Linked DNA regions of Homo sapiens: regions 2, 3 and 4 are each reported to be linked to region 1. The links are microRNA targets in miRTarBase. Many come from high-throughput screens and were not tested one by one. Region 1 holds a microRNA gene; each other region holds the end of a gene's coding sequence.
The links. Region 1 holds the annotated microRNA hsa-miR-4511 (GAAGAACUGUUGCAUUUGCCCU, at 2,276-2,297, shown strand). A microRNA usually pairs through its seed, bases 2 to 8, with sites in the 3' UTR of a target mRNA and lowers its output. Matches are read on the target gene's strand: a 7mer-m8 pairs with bases 2 to 8, a 7mer-A1 pairs with bases 2 to 7 and ends in A, and an 8mer does both.

Region 1 (4,154 bases):
AAGTGGAGTCATTAAAGCTATCTTTAAGTCCAAATGCCTCGCAATGCTTTATCACCATGCTCTTTTCTACTGTTAAGGAAAATTAAACCTTCATTTCTTTATCTGATCTTCTTGGTATTATAGCAGATGACCCATTTATGTAATACACATTTATGTTTAGGTACAACATAAGCATAGGAGGTAGCCTACACCCTTGAGGATTCATCATAGTGTATAGTGTAGTTGGAAATAGACATGGATAAAAACAGTATTTACAAAGTACACTTCATAACAAGTAGATGATTCCAAAGTAGCTCATAAGTATTGGGATATTAAACAAATTACATAAAACGTAACAAAATTTTGCCTTATGGAACAAATAAATCATGCATGTAATATCATTTGTTACCTAGTTAATTGCTTTCTAAAAGTGTTTGCACTTCTTTTGAATAGCTAAGAAGCCCAACAGCTATTGTAGCAATATTCAAATATTATTAACATTGGCTGGGCAGGGTGGCTCAGGCCTGTAATCCCAGCACTTTGGGAGGCTGAGGCAGGGAGATCGCTTGAGTCCAGCAGTTTGAGACCATCCTGGGCAACATGCTGAAACCTTGTCTCTGCAAAAAGTACAAATATATATATATATATATATATATATATATATATAATCAATGAAACAGCCCATTCAACTTTTGTGAAAGGCAGAATCTCAAAGGTTAAAACTACAAACATTTAAATAATACTGATAATTAAGGACTCTAACGCTTTATAGCTTCAGAGCACATTCACATACATTCTTTTACGTTACAGCTATGAGAATGAGATTGAAGGAGGCGTATAGTAGCTTCTCACAGATCATACAGTTAACAAGGATGAAGCTGGGATTAAAACCTAGGCTTTCTTGACTGGGCGTAGTGGCTCATACCTGTAATCCCAGCACTTTGGGAGGCCGAGGCAGGTGGATCACCTGAGGTCAGGAGTTCGAGACCAGCCTGGCCGACATAGTAAAACCCCGTCTCTACTAAAAATACAAAAATTACCCGGATGTGGTGGTGCACGCTTGTTGTCCCAGCTACTTGGGAGGCTGAGGCTGGAGAATAGCTTGAACCTGGGAGGCAAAGGTTGCAGTGAACCAAGATTGTGCCACTGCACTCCAGCCTGGGAGACAGAGTGAGACTCCATCTCAAAAAAAAAAAAAAAATCCTAGGCTTTCTGGTTCCAATGCCTTACGTTCTTCCAGTATTTTCACTTTTTTAGACAATAAGAACTCCTCCAAAAACTCTCGAAGACGATTAATTGTTCCTTATATTTTAAAATTTTGAAGTAATAACAAACTTTTTTCCTGACCCTTTGACATTAGATGCTTCATGACATTTGAATAGAATGTATTTCCTACCCAGTACATTCTTTGACATCACTACAATGTAACCATAAAAATCAGAAAATTAACATTGAGAATTACTGCTGTCCTAATCCTCAGACCACATTCAGGTTTTGCCAGTTATCATCTTAATGTTCTTTATAACAAAAGGATCCAGTTCCAAATCAGGTGTTGTATGTAGTTTCAAGTCTCTTTATTTGCCTTTCCTTCTGAACAGTTCCTCAGATTCTCTGCCATCTTTGAAGATTATACTTACCATTGTAGAATTGTCCATGGTGTGGGTTTGTCTGAGCATTCTCATAATAAATACAGGCCACCCATCTATTTTCTTTTTTTTGAGACAGGGTGTCTCACTGTGTCACCCAGGCTGGAGTGCAGTGGCGCGATCACGGTTTATGGCAGCCACAAGCTCCCAGGCTCAAGTGATCCTCCCATCTCAGCCTCCTGAGAAGCTGGGACTACAGACACAAGCTATCACACCCAGCTAATTAAAAAAAAAAAAAATTCTGTAGAGATGGGATCTCACTATATTGCCATGCTGGTCTTGAACTTCTGGGCTCAAGTGATCCTCCCACTGCAGCCTCCTAAAGTGCTAGGATTACAGATGTGAGCCACTGCACCCGGCCCAGGTCACACATCTTTGACAGGAATATCACAGAAGTGATGCTGTGTCTCTCTCATTGCGTCCTTATATCAGATCGCACACTATTTTGCTTTGTCCCATTATTGATGAAGATATTCACTTCGATCACTTGATTAAGGTGGTGTCTACTAGACTTCTCTACTATAAAATTACATGTTTACTATCTAATGGCTTTAGCATTGAATTGTCCAGGAAGAAGAATTGTTTTTTATATTTTAATCCTTGTGTGTTCTTCCTGCAGGTACTTATATTAAAAAAAAAAAAAAGGGAAAGAAGAACTGTTGCATTTGCCCTGCACTCAGTTTGCACAGGGTAAATGCAATAGTTCTTCTTTCCCTTTTTTTAAAAGTCTGTTTTCAATATGTAAGACAAAAACATGAATGAATACAAGAGGGAATGTCACTGCCACTTTGAAAAAGACATATATATGTATTATATAAAATATGTATGTTTTATATATATTCATATGGAAAGAGTGTGAGAGCAAGTATGTGCACATAACATGCAAAGTGGCTGGGCATGGTGCCTCATGCCTATAATCCCAGCACTTTGGGAGGCCAAGGTAGGCGGATCACCTGAGGTCAGGAGTTCGAGACTAGCCTCGCCAACACGGTGAAACCCCGTCTCTACTAAAAATACAAAAATTAGCTGGGCGTGGTGATGGGCACCTGTAATCCCAGCTACCAAGGAGGCTGAGGCAGGAGAATCTCTGGAGCCCGGGAGGTAGGGGCTGCAGTAAGCTGAGATCGTGCCACTGTACTCCAGCCTGGGTGACAGACCAAGACTCTGTCTCAAAAAACCAAAAAAAAAAAAAAAAAAAAAAAAAAAAAGGAAAAAAAACATGCAAAACTTTTGAGGGAAAGGGGGGCAGTTTTTGAAATATTTTCAAATGTACTAGTTTATGTATAATCTCACCATAATCACTTGATGGTGAGAGAACAATGGAGACAATTCTGTATGAAGATTTGAGAGATCTGGGTTTATGTTCCTTTTTTATTATTCTCCTTATTCGTATGTCAGGTCATTTCCCCTCTCAGGGCATGTGCAAAATAGTAGTGGTGTGGGAGGTATAGATGACATGGTTGTTCAGATTCTTTCTGAACAATGCCAATACTTGGTGAGCCTATGAGTGATATATATTTATGTTGAACAGCTTTCTTATATTCTATTGCCTTCTCGGTTACAATCATTATTAACTTATATATAGTTATTTTAGAACATGAACTTAAAAAAAATTTTGTAAAGACAGAATCTCTCTTATGTTGCCCAGGCTAGTCTTGAACTCCTAGCCTCAAGTGATCCTCCTGCCTTGGTCTAGGATTGCACGCATGAGCTACCATGACCGACCTGAGCTTTTTTTTTCCTGGTGGTAGTGAGATAAACGGGTAGCTTTGTGTTTAATTTGGATAAAATTTACTCAACGGAGACTACAAAATGCTATGGCAAGCTTTGCTAAGGTTTACGTATGATTAAGTTATGTAAACAAAGAGTTGAGGTAGCTTGGGTCCTTTTGAAAATACAACAAAATTATATTGGTACCATCATGAGTGTTTTGTGAGTTTGGAGAAAACACTAACACTGTATGTCTTCACAGTGCAGCAGAGACCGAGAGATGATGGACTCATGGATTTAGCAATAAATGACTATGATTTTAATTCTGGAAAGAGGTTGCACATGATAGATTTGGAAATCCAAGAGGCATTTTTGTTTTTCATGGCCTCTATTTTAAAAGGTTACAGATCATACTTAAGGCCAATAACACAAGCCCCATCTGAGACAGCCACAGATGCAGCCTCTCTCTTTGCCCTACAAGGTGAGTGACTGCATAGTTTTAAAGCTTTCAGGTTATTGAGCTTAACTTTGTGATGATTCATTTGCTGTCTGTATTAATAGCTCATATTTATGAGAATACATACCTATTTTGAGGAGAATCTGAATACTAGCTTTGTTGGTTACCCATTTCCATAGGACTAGTTATTTTTCAGGCATATTAGATATAATCCCATTAGCAGATATGCAGAAGAAAAGTATAGAGCCTCCCAACCATATACCGACTACACTTTTGTGTCACATGTGTGTTGAGATACTGATACTTTCAGCTTTCAGAGCAGCAGGCAGTGTTGGGGATAAGAGGAACCCCTGAGATGGTCA
Region 2 (4,000 bases), not on the chromosome of region 1:
GGAATGGGAAATGACTGCTTATTGGTGCCAAGTTTCCTTTAGAGTTGATGAAAATGTTCTGGAACTACATAATGGTGACTGCACAATATTGTGAATGTACTAAATGTCAGAATTGTATACTTTATCATGGTTAGAATGGTAAATTTTGTGTGTACTTTACCACAATAAAAAATTTAAAAATTAAAGAAAAGTTTTGAAATTAGAGAACAAATGAAGAGGATCTGTTGTTGTTATAGCTGGCAAAACTATTAAGTTCTAACATGCCAGTGCAGCACATTCTTATATTTTACATCCAATAGAAACGGTTTTACAAAAGAAAGGTCAGAGTCTTTTTCACTATGCTAGAGATGACTTCTAAGGATTGTTAAACATAAAGGTACATTATGTGTCCATTCAAAAGAAGAAATACCCTTTTTTATAATAGCAAGGGGAAAAAGGAAAATAATTGAGCAAAGTGTTTGATTTCAACCAAGTGTTTGCAGGTGAACAAACTTCAGTATTCAAATGTAAAGCAGGTGTTTTTTTGTAGGACACTGAAAAATATTCATTAATGAAGCATTAGCAAGATATCATTTTACAAAGCATAATTATGCAAATTTTCATCAGTACTGCTCTTTTCTTTTTAATGAACAATTTGTTTTGGCAATTTTATGTAAATAAGAGAATAGAACACGCTCACAACACTCCTGCCATTCACAGCATTAAACAGAGTGGTCATGAAAACAAAGACCAGCTCATTTTAAAAGATTTATGAATATCCAGATTAAAAAACAAACTTCTCAAATCTTTAGATCCAGATGCCCAGATAAACTGGTTTTCTGAACTGTACACTCACATACACAGCAAAAATTTCAAGAGTATGGCTAGACATCATATTAAGACCATTCAAGCAGACTCAGGAACTGGGTTCAAAAACTTTGAGGAACATCTTACTCTGAGAGTATCTGGCCCAGAACTCAAAAAACTATTAACAGAAAAGGCAGAGCAAATGCCATAACTAAGAGTAATCTTTTCTTCTCCCCTGAACTCAAATCTAGACTCATTTCATATTGACTTTATGAAACAATTTGACACTGAGGATTTGAATGAAGCAATGTTTATACTTGTATCCGCATGTTTAAGAATAATTATCCACCTTGAGGATTCCTGGGAATTTTCCTCACCCTGTTAACCATGCCCTCCCCCATACTCTTATAGCATTACCACAAAACCATTACAAAATTTTTAAAAAGTTTAAAAATAACAAAATCAACAAATGTGAGTTCATTAGAAGTTGTTAGGAAGATTTTAAGTCCTGTGATTTTATAACTTTCTTACAATACTTGAATTTTAAAGATCTTCTCTAGAAACTTTTTTTAAATAAAAGTTTTATTGGAGAAAAATAGAACCACCACGTACACAGGGAAAAGAGCACAAAAATTCAACTGATACAGAACAACAACTGAAAGTCACAATTATCCAATGTAGTTTGCAATTACTTTTCAGTTTCTTAAACAGCTCCCCTCAACTTTTTTTTTTTAACAGTCTTGCTAATTTTTCAGCTGAAACAGCATCAAGTTTTCAAAGAATTAAGAGCCTCGGGGAGGGGACCCGCTTTCAAGATACTGAAGGTGACATCAAGAGTCTCCTCCTAACAGGACCAACTCTATCTAAAAGTTGCTTACGAGTAACTTGAATCTTGTGTAATAGTCTACATCTCACAGACCATCAGGGATGAGTTAGAACACTGTTGTTGATGGTCCGGTATGAAGAGAGGGTAAACAAAATAGCTGCATTTGCTTGTCAGCTGAGCTCATATAAAGAAATCAGTGAGGAGCTGAGAAAATATAGGCAATGGCTGCTCAATAAGAATTACAAGTTCCGAATACCACATATAGTTAGACACCAGTGTGCAAGTTGATGCAACTAGAAAGAAATAGACGACTTTTTAAAATACCTGGCCACAGGTCTTTGAGAACTCAAGCAAACAATCAACAGTAGACACAAGAGTCAAAAATCTTCTCAGGTTGAAGATTAGGACATAGGTAATCTTCCTAACGGCTCCAACAGGCAAGGAAATATGCTGTGGCAAAAAGCATTAAGTAGTTCTGATTTTTAACAAACATAAACAAAATTTTCTGCTTCTCCTCCCTTCAAAGCTTCAAGGAAATAGAAACAAGGAAACAAAATAAAAACAAAAAAAAATCAGTGACAGTAAAGAGAAGCCTTTGCTTGAATTATCAATTCGAAAAACAGTACTTTTGCCATTTTGTATATATAAACAATCTTGGGACATTCTCCTGAAAACTAGGTGTCCAGTGGCTAAGAGAACTCGATTTCAAGCAATTCTGAAAGGAAAACCAGCATGACACAGAATCTCAAATTCCCAAACAGGGGCTCTGTGGGAAAAATGAGGGAGGACCTTTGTATCTAGGGTTTTAGCAAGTTAAAATGAAGATGACAGGAAAGGCTTATTTATCAACAAAGAGAAGAGTTGGGATGCTTCTAAAAAAAACTTTGGTAGAGAAAATAGGAATGCTAAATCCTAGGAAGCCTGTAACAATCTACAATTGGTCCAAGTTGAAGACAAAACTGTCCAAACAACATTTAAAGTCTAAAGTATGTTGAAAACTAGTTGCAAAGTTTTTGCTCCTGTAACAATTTACAAAACACGTTCATTTTGGTCTCTTTTGCAATTTTCTTATTGTATTCATTTTTAATATAAAGAGTTGGATTTTTCTCTTCTATGATGTTCCTCTAGTACAACTGATCATTAATTTTCTACTTTAGCTATTTTTATAAGTACTTGTTAATCAGCACAGTTAACTTGGGGCTAAGCCATATACACACATCCCATACTCATAAATGAAAATTTTTAGGATGTGAATATACAAGATATTATGTAAGCAACTGTCCCCCTACTTGAAAACTTGTTTCCAAATAATTTTTTTTAAAAAACATCCCTTTCAGTGTAACAGAACATCACCTAGTAAAATATCAATAGCTATGACAATTCATTTCTCTTTTCAAGGGAAATCACAAAACGGGTGAACAACCAAGTCAAGGGTGGTTTTTCTATTTGATAAATACATCCAGAACTCTGTACAGTAAATAAAGTTTGCATGCAGTTTAAGTATCTTTAAATGACATTTTAAGCAAATAAACCTTTTGCTTCATAATTAATGGTGTGTAAGAACCCTCCCCCCTTTTTAATAGCCACAGGGATCTCTTTCCCAGTTCCAAAGAGGAATTCATGAAGACCAGGTACGTTCTTAAGTGTTTTCTGCACATCATACTAAATAACATGCAAAGAGTTCAACAACATTCTTCTTAAAGGTAAGTATTACTCTTTAAAATGGGCATGTTAACCACTGAGAAAAAGTCCACTCAACTATTTCCATTAATTACACTGCTTCATTTGGTCATCGGTAGTAAAAAAGGAGTCAAATAATATTGAATCAACAGGTTAGTTTATCCACTGGCTACTGCATATGACACCAAATGCTGCAAGGCCAACATTCTATGCAATATAGTTGTACTGGTTTGGATTTTCTTTATCTCTTTCCATGTAGTCCCGGTCAATTAAAGATTCTATTCTCTTCTTAAGATCAGCAGGCTGTAAGAGAAGGCAAATTTTCAATGTAAAGTTCATTATCATTGGCTCAAGCCCATTTAGTTAATACCCCATTAAAAAGACAACAGTTTCGGCTCATGAATTTAATCTCCTTTTTTAAAATTTTTATTTATTTAAATCTCTTTTTTAGAGAAAAGTATCATGAAAATAAACCAGGTTAAAAAATGTTTTATACACGTTGAAGATTCTTTTTTTTTTTTTTTGAGACGGAGTCTCGCTCTGTCACCCAGGCTGGACTGCAGTGGCACCACTTTGGCTCACTGCAACCTCCACCTCCTGGGTTCAAGTGATTCTTCTGCCTCAGCTTCCCGAGTAGCTGGGACTAGACACAAGCCACCACGCCTGGCTAATTTTTGTATTTTTGGTAGAGATGGGGTGTCACCATAT
Region 3 (4,000 bases), not on the chromosome of region 1:
TTGTGGTTTTATCTGACTTTAAAACATTTTGTAAGTAGCTAATATGTTTGTAAGAATTAGCCTGGTGTTGCTTTATCAGACTTGACCTTAAAAAGGTTTTAAGATTTATTTATTCATGTTTGCAAAAAGTTTTTCTTGCTGATAGGAAGAAAGTTTTTCAAATCAAAACTTCATGTAACTGAATTGTGACCTTTTACATTTGAGATCCATGATAGAATTAATATTTGAAGTTTTCATTTGGAGATACTGTGGTAGCTGTCTTAACTGCCTTAAAAGAATTAGTCCACAGCTGATTGGAAATGTAGAACACCTACTTGTCCTTGCAGCTGATTGGGGAAGTACCTGTTTATACTCTGAAATAATTTCAGTGCTTTTTAAAAAAAAAAGACAAATTATTAAACACTTTGACTTTGCTGACTATGATCTAGCATGGTAGAGACTTTGATATAATACTGTTTATAAATGAATTTATTGAGGGGCAAGATGAAAAAAATCTCATAGCTATATCAGTATGCTATACGGGTCAGCTATATCAGTATGCTGATCAGCTTAGGTTTTAACATTTTTACAATAAATTATTGGTTTATTCTTTAAAAGAGACTGAATGGTGAACCTCTGGATAATTTTGAATCACTGGATAATCAGGAATTTGATTCTGAAGAAGAAACTGTTGAGGATTCTCTAGTGGAAGACTCAGAAATTGGCACGTGTGCTGAAGGAACTGTATCTTCCTCTACGGATGCAAAGCCATGTATATGAAATGCATTAATATTTGACTGTTGAGAATTTTACTGCCGAAGTTTACCTCCACTAGTTCTTTGTAGCAGAGTACATAACTACATAATGCCAACTCTGGAATCAAATTTCCTTGTTTGAATCCTGGGACCCTATTGCATTAAAGTACAAATACTATGTATTTTTAATCTATGATGGTTTATGTGAATAGGATTTTCTCAGTTGTCAGCCATGACTTATGTTTATTACTAAATAAACTTCAAACTCCTGTTGAACATTGTGTATAACTTAGAATAATGAAATATAAGGAGTATGTGTAGAAAATTTGTCTGTTTCTATGCTTTTATGTTGTTCTCTTTCCATTCTTTTGCTAACTACCTTGGAGGAGACAAGGAGAAAACGAACTTAAAGTATTTAGACTGAGATAGCTGAGGTTTTTAACTCCCAAACTTTGTTGTACCTCAAGCTCATTGTAGACACTATTGATATTAACAAGTTGTTTTTGGAATGGAGCATGAGAATCTATTTTCCAAAAGCTTTTCAAGTGAATCTGATTAGACAGTGAGAGGCCCAACTGGCTAGCAGGATCAGACTCTTCTTGGAAGCTTAAAATGATGGATGATGGTGATAATCCTCAAGAAACAAAGTGAGGAGTGGGTAGAAGTTTGACGGAAAAAATCAGGAATAGCTGAAAATTATGGAGCTTTTCTATTTCACATATTGGTATAGTGCAAAGTATGTAAATATTGAAGAATAAGAGTAGGGTCAGATTCATTAGGGATTTCCCATATATACTAAGTTTTGAAGGAGGAAAAGTACAAACTAGGGGTATGTAGCATTGGAACTGAAAAAGTTCTGTGAGAGGCATACAAGTAGTTTTGTATAAATTGGCAATAAAGAGCAATGTCATGCTTTTATTTTTTTTCCTTTGAGACGGAGTCTTGCTCTTGTTGCCCAGGCTGGAGTGCAATGGCATGATCTTGGCTCACTGCAACCTCTGCCTCCCTGGTTCAAGTGATTCTGCCTCAGCCTCCTGAGTAGCTGCGATTACAGGTGCCTGCCACCACACCTGGCTAGTTTTTGTATTTTTAGTAGAGCCGGGGTTTCACCATGTTGGCCAGGCTGGTCTCGAACTCCTGACCCCAAGTGATCCGCCCACCTCAGCCTCCCAAAGTGCTGGGATGACAGGTGTGAGGCACCACGCCTGGCCTCAAGCTTTTGAAAGGATTGTTTTAGGTAAGCATCCTTATAGAACCTTAATTTTCTCTCTCTGTCACCCAGGCGGGAGTGCAGGGGTGCAATCTCAGCTCACTTCAGCCTCCACCTGATGGGCGCAAGTCATCTTCCCACTTCAGCCTCCCAAGTAGCTGAGACTACAGGTGCGTGCCACCACACCTGGCTAATTTTTTATATAGACGGGGTTTCGCCATGTTGCCCAGGCTGGTCTTGAATTCCTGGCATCAAGCGATCCGCCTGCTTCGGCCTCCAGAGTGTTGGGATTACAGGCGTGAGCCACCGTGCCTGGCCTTAATTTTCTTTAATACTGAGATAAAGCCTACCTCATAGTGTTATCGTGAAGATTAAAACCTTTAGTGTCTAGGCTAAGTGTCTTAAAAATGGAAGCTATTATTAATCTATAACAACATTGTCCAGTAGAACTTATTGGGATGATGAGAATATCTGCTGTACAGTATGGTAGCCATTTCTGTGTGGCTGTTTAGCACTTGAAGTGTGGCTAGTGTGAATGAGGTATGGACATTTTAATTTAAGTCACTACAAGAAGCTAGTGGCAATTACGTTAGTGTGGCTCTGTGTGTTTCAGGTGTGGATCACTAGCCTAAAGATAGGATTAATAGGTAAATTAATTTTAAAGGAATTGAAGAATATTCTGGATTAGAGCATGAGGAGACTCAGTTGAGAGGCCTTTAGCATGGTTAAGAAAGAAAATAGGTAAGTAGAATAGGGACTTGACAAATAGAAAGTATTTTTGTAAAATGCCAGAATTTGATGGTGGGGAGCAAAAGGAGAGGGAATTGAAGGGGATTAAAAAACTAAGGTAGTAGCTAAAACCATAAAACTTCTAGATTATATAGAAAAGTTCTTAGTGACTTTGGGTTTGGCAGAGAGTTCTCAAATAGGACACAAAAAAGCATCAACTTCAAATTAAACGTTGTAAATTTTAAAAACTTTTTGAAAGACAAGCAAATGAAAAGGCAAGAACAGACTGGGGGAACATATTTGCAGAACATAGCCAACAAAGGATTTGTATCTATAAAGAACTAGGGTATGTATGAGATGGAAACTAAGTGCATGAAAAGATGCTCAACATTAGTCATTAAGGAAGTGCAAATTAAATGACAACCAGATACTGCTACATACCTTTCAGAATTGTTTTAAGTTTGAAAAATAAAAACAACTCCATCGAGTGTTAAGGATGTGAAACATCTGAAACCCTCCTGCAGTGGTGGTGGCAGTGCTAAATGCTACAACTGCTGTGGAAAAGTTGAACAATTCCTTAAAAGTTATACATACACATTTTATATGACTCAGCCATTCCACCCCTGGGTATTTACCCAAGAGAAACGAAAGCATATGTCCACATGAAGACTAGTTCACACATTTTCATAGCTTTATTTGTAATAGCCCAAATATCCATTGGTAACTGAGTGGATAAATTATGGTATAACTATACAGTGGAATACTATTTAGCAATAAAAAGGGGACAAAAATTGGTACACGCCACATGGACGAATCTCAATGTTGTGTGAAAGAAGCCAGGTAAATACATACTGTATGCTTCTATTTATTTAAAATCACAAAACTACAAAGTATAATGAGAAAGCAGATTAGTAGTTGCCTAAGGGTCATGTAGGGGCTGTTTTGGGGGACATATTTTAAGCTTCTAGTCCCTGGGAACTGACCCTAGTGATGGAGAATTTGTAGGAATTTCCTGTGGAAGATGAGTCTGATTTTTAATTAGGTATCAAATGTTAGTATAGCATGTCAGCCGGGTGTGATGGCTACGCCTGTAATCCCTACACTTTGGGAGGCTGAGGCAGGCAGATCACTTGAGGACAGGAGTTCAACATCAGCCTGGCTAACATGGCAAAATGCTTTGTCTACTAAAAATACAAAAGATTAGTTGGGCGTGGTGGTGCACACCTGTAGTCACAGCTCTTCGGGAGGCTGAGGCACACAAGAATTGCTTGAATCTGGGAGGCAGAAGTTGCAGTGAGCATAGATTGCGCCACTGCACTCCAGCCTC
Region 4 (4,000 bases), not on the chromosome of region 1:
ACACTGGATGATAGTGAGAAATCTGTTTGCCTCACAACATAGTGAATTTTTATGAAGGATGCCACATTATATAAAGCTAATTATCATCGAATAATAATAAAAGTCATATGTATCTTTATTTTTCCTACTTGGAAACCTAGATAATTTGGGGTTTTAATACATTTTTTTTCCTTCACTATCTCTGAAAAGAGTCAGCAGACAAATCATTGTTGAGAAACCTGGTTGTGTTCATGCAAGTTACAAAGCACAGGGAACCCATGCAACAAGCAAAACCACTCACATCAAACAAGGAGAAACCCACTTCCTCATACTTCGTGAATGTTACAGGAATACACAGATGATTTTACTGTTCAGACATTTACACATAACACAACAGAAAAATCCTTCAGTTGACTAGTTTCCATAAACTTGGTAGCATTACGGCAAAACAAGAGAGTCATCTGTGAAACACACAAATGTTTTGTACTGAGGGATATTTTCACATAACTCAGGAGATAAGGAACTTAAATTTAGACCCCCTCAATCTCATCATCATACTGATTATACCGTAAGCAGTTATTAGGGTGCAGAGGTTGCGTGTTTTGAAGATATGGATGTGGCAATTCTAATGTATCTTCACATTGTTCCTGAAAAGCTAAGGTTTTGTTATTGAACTACTATTAAAAGTTGAATGTGATCCTCTTTCAATGTCTGGCATTGCCTTCCTGTGGAATTAACATTCTGTGTGATTTAGAGTACATGTCCTGACTTTCTCAGTGCTCATAAATACCTTATCTGTAGGAAACTTACTTTAAGGGAAAAGCAGCTTTAGCCCGTCTCCAGTATATGGCCATGACTTGCTTACATTGTAATCCATTATGAAGGAAAAAGAGCCATCCTCACAAATCTAGAAGATTAAAAGTTCAAGCACAAGCACAACTTGAATCAGTGCTTCTGTAGCTTGTTTCAGCAAAGGGACCATAGCCAGTACTGTGGCTGCAACATATGCCTTGCCATCAGATACAATAGTTAGGCTTCCTATCCACATCCTATGCAGTAAAAAAGCTTTAAATCTGAATGGAACATCTGCAGAATTAGCTTACAGACAACTCAGAAGCAGGAACACTTTGGTCCGTGTTCAAATAAAATGAAGGTTGAGATTCTTTATGCAGCAGCAGGAGAAGTAGGATTCTGAATCTCTCTTTGGAGTCAAGTTGGTCTTTGAAAGAAAACCAATTTGCTTTTAAGAGATTCTAGTCTAGCAGGATACCAGATGATGGCAAGTGTGCTTAAACCAAGGGTGCTGTATAGACTAAGGGACTGGTACACTGGAAAACTACCTTCTGTTCCAGCAGAGGGCAATTAGGGTGTCAGCAATGCTGTTATTACTACTAAGGTCACCAAGGACCTCGACCAAGAAGATCCAGCAACACACCTTATTACAGTGCACAGAGGTCAACAGTAAGAGATAAAAGAAAAAGATACTCTTTTATCAAACGTTTACATTACATTGCTAATTTTTATTACATAATATTTTTCATTCTTTTGATTCACTGATATTTATTCCTGATTCTGACTCTGCCTACCGTTATTCTCTCTACTTGTTAATTCTAATCTTATTCTTTTTATTTGTAAAAGCCTAACTTTTCTGAGGCATAGTTGTGTGTGTGTATGTGTATTTAACCTATTAATTCTAGAAACATTAATTTAAAGTAGAAGAGATAGAGATTACAGATAATAATGGCATGTAAAGAGTTTTTTACAGTTAATACCTGAGAGTCTGCACAGTGGGGAACTCTGAAGTAATATGCAAGATGTCAAGAACAAGCAGTTCAGGACTGTGGCACTCAAAGGGCAGGTAACCAGCTTTTCAGGATCTTGAGAAGAAAGGCTCTTTGCCACATACAGATATTACATTTATAGAAATAATATATTAGAATTATTGAAATAGAAATATAGAATTAATGGTTCGTGCATGACCAGATGCTGATATATATAAGTGGACAGTAAATACCTATTACTATGCTCTACAAATTCACTGAAATTGCTAATAAAGACTGTAAACTAAAAGGCATAAAAGAAAATCATGTACAGATTTTATTTCTGCTGAAGATCACAAAACAATTTCAACCTCTGTGGTTCAAAATAATTTAAGGATCTTGTACCTTTGTGTTTATTTTCTGTTTCAACTAAGGATAGACTTCAGAAGGCATAGCTTCCCTTGTAACGTTTTTAAACATCTTTTTCATTTGTAGAAGAACATTTCAAAAGCCCAAATTAAATTATCATTAAAATACTTTGACACTTTACAATCTTCCAAGTGGAATTTAAGTTGTATGCCTTGATACTGTAGTTTTACAGTTTCCCCATCATTGGTAAATATTCTTCTATGATGCCACTATAATGCTACTGGTAGAAAATATGTGCATATAATTTATCAGTATATTTTCATGTAAAATTTTATAAAAATCTCAAAGTTATGAAGATAGTTTTACACACCCTCTAAACTAGGTGTCAGCAAACTATAACCCATAAGCCAAATTCAACCCACCACAAAAATATTTGCTATCAGGCCTTTACAGAAAAAGTTTGCTGAAGGTGTCTGGAATTCTGGACAGATTGTTTACAGTGGAATCAGTGTATGACTTAATTTTGCTTCCTTTATAGATATCATATACATTATTGCTTTTGAATATTATCATCTACTTGGAAAACAAATAAAGTTATATTAAAACAAAGACTTACATCCTTGAAATGTTTAGGACCAGCAAAACAATCATATATAAAAGCAGTATATTTCTAAGAAAAAAAAAACAATAAATGAACAATTTAAATTACATTTTTAAGTAACAATTTCAGAGATCCTCAGAGAATGCCAGGCAGTAAAGGACAGATCTCAAAATCCATATAGCAGATTTCTGGTTTCCAAATTTCTGGGATACAGTATTTAACACAGTATTTGAAACTCTACAATTGCTACGGAAGCGACATTGTGGAGAGTTACATATTATCCAAAAACACATTTTTCACAAGTAAGATATTTTAAAATAAGAAACCAACCAAAAAAGAATGGCCAACAATTTAAATCTTTTTTTCCATTAATAAGGAGCTACATAGTCTGCTGGTGAAGAACTTGATAGAAATTGACTGTTTTCACTTAGTGGGCTGATCCCCGTGTATCTGTGTCAGATAAAATCATAGCATTTATTCGTTACCATGGATACCATGAAGATACTGCCATCCACTAAATAGTATTAGAGGAAGACAACATAATTTTCTGGAACTAGTCCTGTTTTGCCTTCATAAGTTGCCTTTAACCATCCTGGTTCCACTGATGGGTACACTGGCAAAATAAATAAATAAATAGCACTCAGTCAACATTAGTGTCAAATAATTATATAAACAGATGGGTTAAACACCCACATCGGATTGTCAGTCCTCAGTATCTGTGGGGGATTAGTTCCAGGACCCCTTGTGGATACCAGAAACTGTGCATGCTCATGTCCCTGATATAAAATGATGTAATATTTGCATATACCCTAGGGACATCCCCCTGTATGCTTTAAATCATTTCTAGATTATTTGTAATTCCTTTTACAATGTAAATACTATGTAAATAGTTGTTATACTATATATTTTTAAAATTTGTATTATTATTTATCTATTTATTTTCCAACCTTTTTGATCCATGGTTGGTTAAAGTGTGCATGCAAAAATTCTGGAATGTAGAGGGTCCAACTATACACTCAACTCAAACGTCCAAACAAAACAATGTCACAGCCCTCTAAAGTTGGAATGTCCTTTGCATTCACATAGTCAAATAAAACAATCTCTCTGTCTCACACACATGTACAAACAGGTACATACACACAAATGCCTGCAGGAGAGGAATGAATCCAGAGGGAATTTTAAAATGTTTTATTTATTTATAGACAGAGTCTTGCTGTGTTGCCAGGCTGGAGTGCAGTGGTGCCATCTCAGCTCACTGCAACCTCCGCCTCCCTGGTTCAAGCCATTCTCC

Region 2: the mRNA of CUL4B is a reported target of hsa-miR-4511. Seed matches in the 3' UTR shown: 7mer-A1 at 3,170-3,176.
Region 3: miRTarBase lists GMNN as a target of hsa-miR-4511. Seed matches in the 3' UTR shown: 7mer-m8 at 813-819.
Region 4: the mRNA of ARHGAP42 is a reported target of hsa-miR-4511. Seed matches in the 3' UTR shown: 7mer-m8 at 3,107-3,113.

The regions. Positions count from the first base shown.
Region 1 is chr15:65,717,440-65,721,593 of GRCh38, reverse strand. It overlaps MIR4511 (microRNA 4511), which reads left to right and starts at 2,262; the gene lies at 2,262-2,348. DENND4A (DENN domain containing 4A) reads left to right here. Exons shown (of 33, transcript NM_001320835.1): 13 at 3,598-3,816.
Region 2 is chrX:120,523,262-120,527,261 of GRCh38, forward strand. It overlaps CUL4B (cullin 4B), which reads right to left. Exons shown (of 20, transcript NM_001079872.2): 20 at 597-3,595. The coding sequence ends at 3,500. Among named protein-coding and RNA genes, the nearest start is that of CUL4B, 36 kb to the right of the region's middle.
Region 3 is chr6:24,785,041-24,789,040 of GRCh38, forward strand. GMNN (geminin DNA replication inhibitor) reads left to right here. Exons shown (of 7, transcript NM_015895.5): 7 at 598-1,059. The coding sequence ends at 759. Among named protein-coding and RNA genes, the nearest start is that of ARMH2, 12 kb to the right of the region's middle.
Region 4 is chr11:100,988,035-100,992,034 of GRCh38, reverse strand. ARHGAP42 (Rho GTPase activating protein 42) reads right to left here. Exons shown (of 24, transcript NM_152432.4): 24 at 1-3,322. The coding sequence ends at 3,234. Among named protein-coding and RNA genes, the nearest start is that of SNORD13I, 56 kb to the right of the region's middle.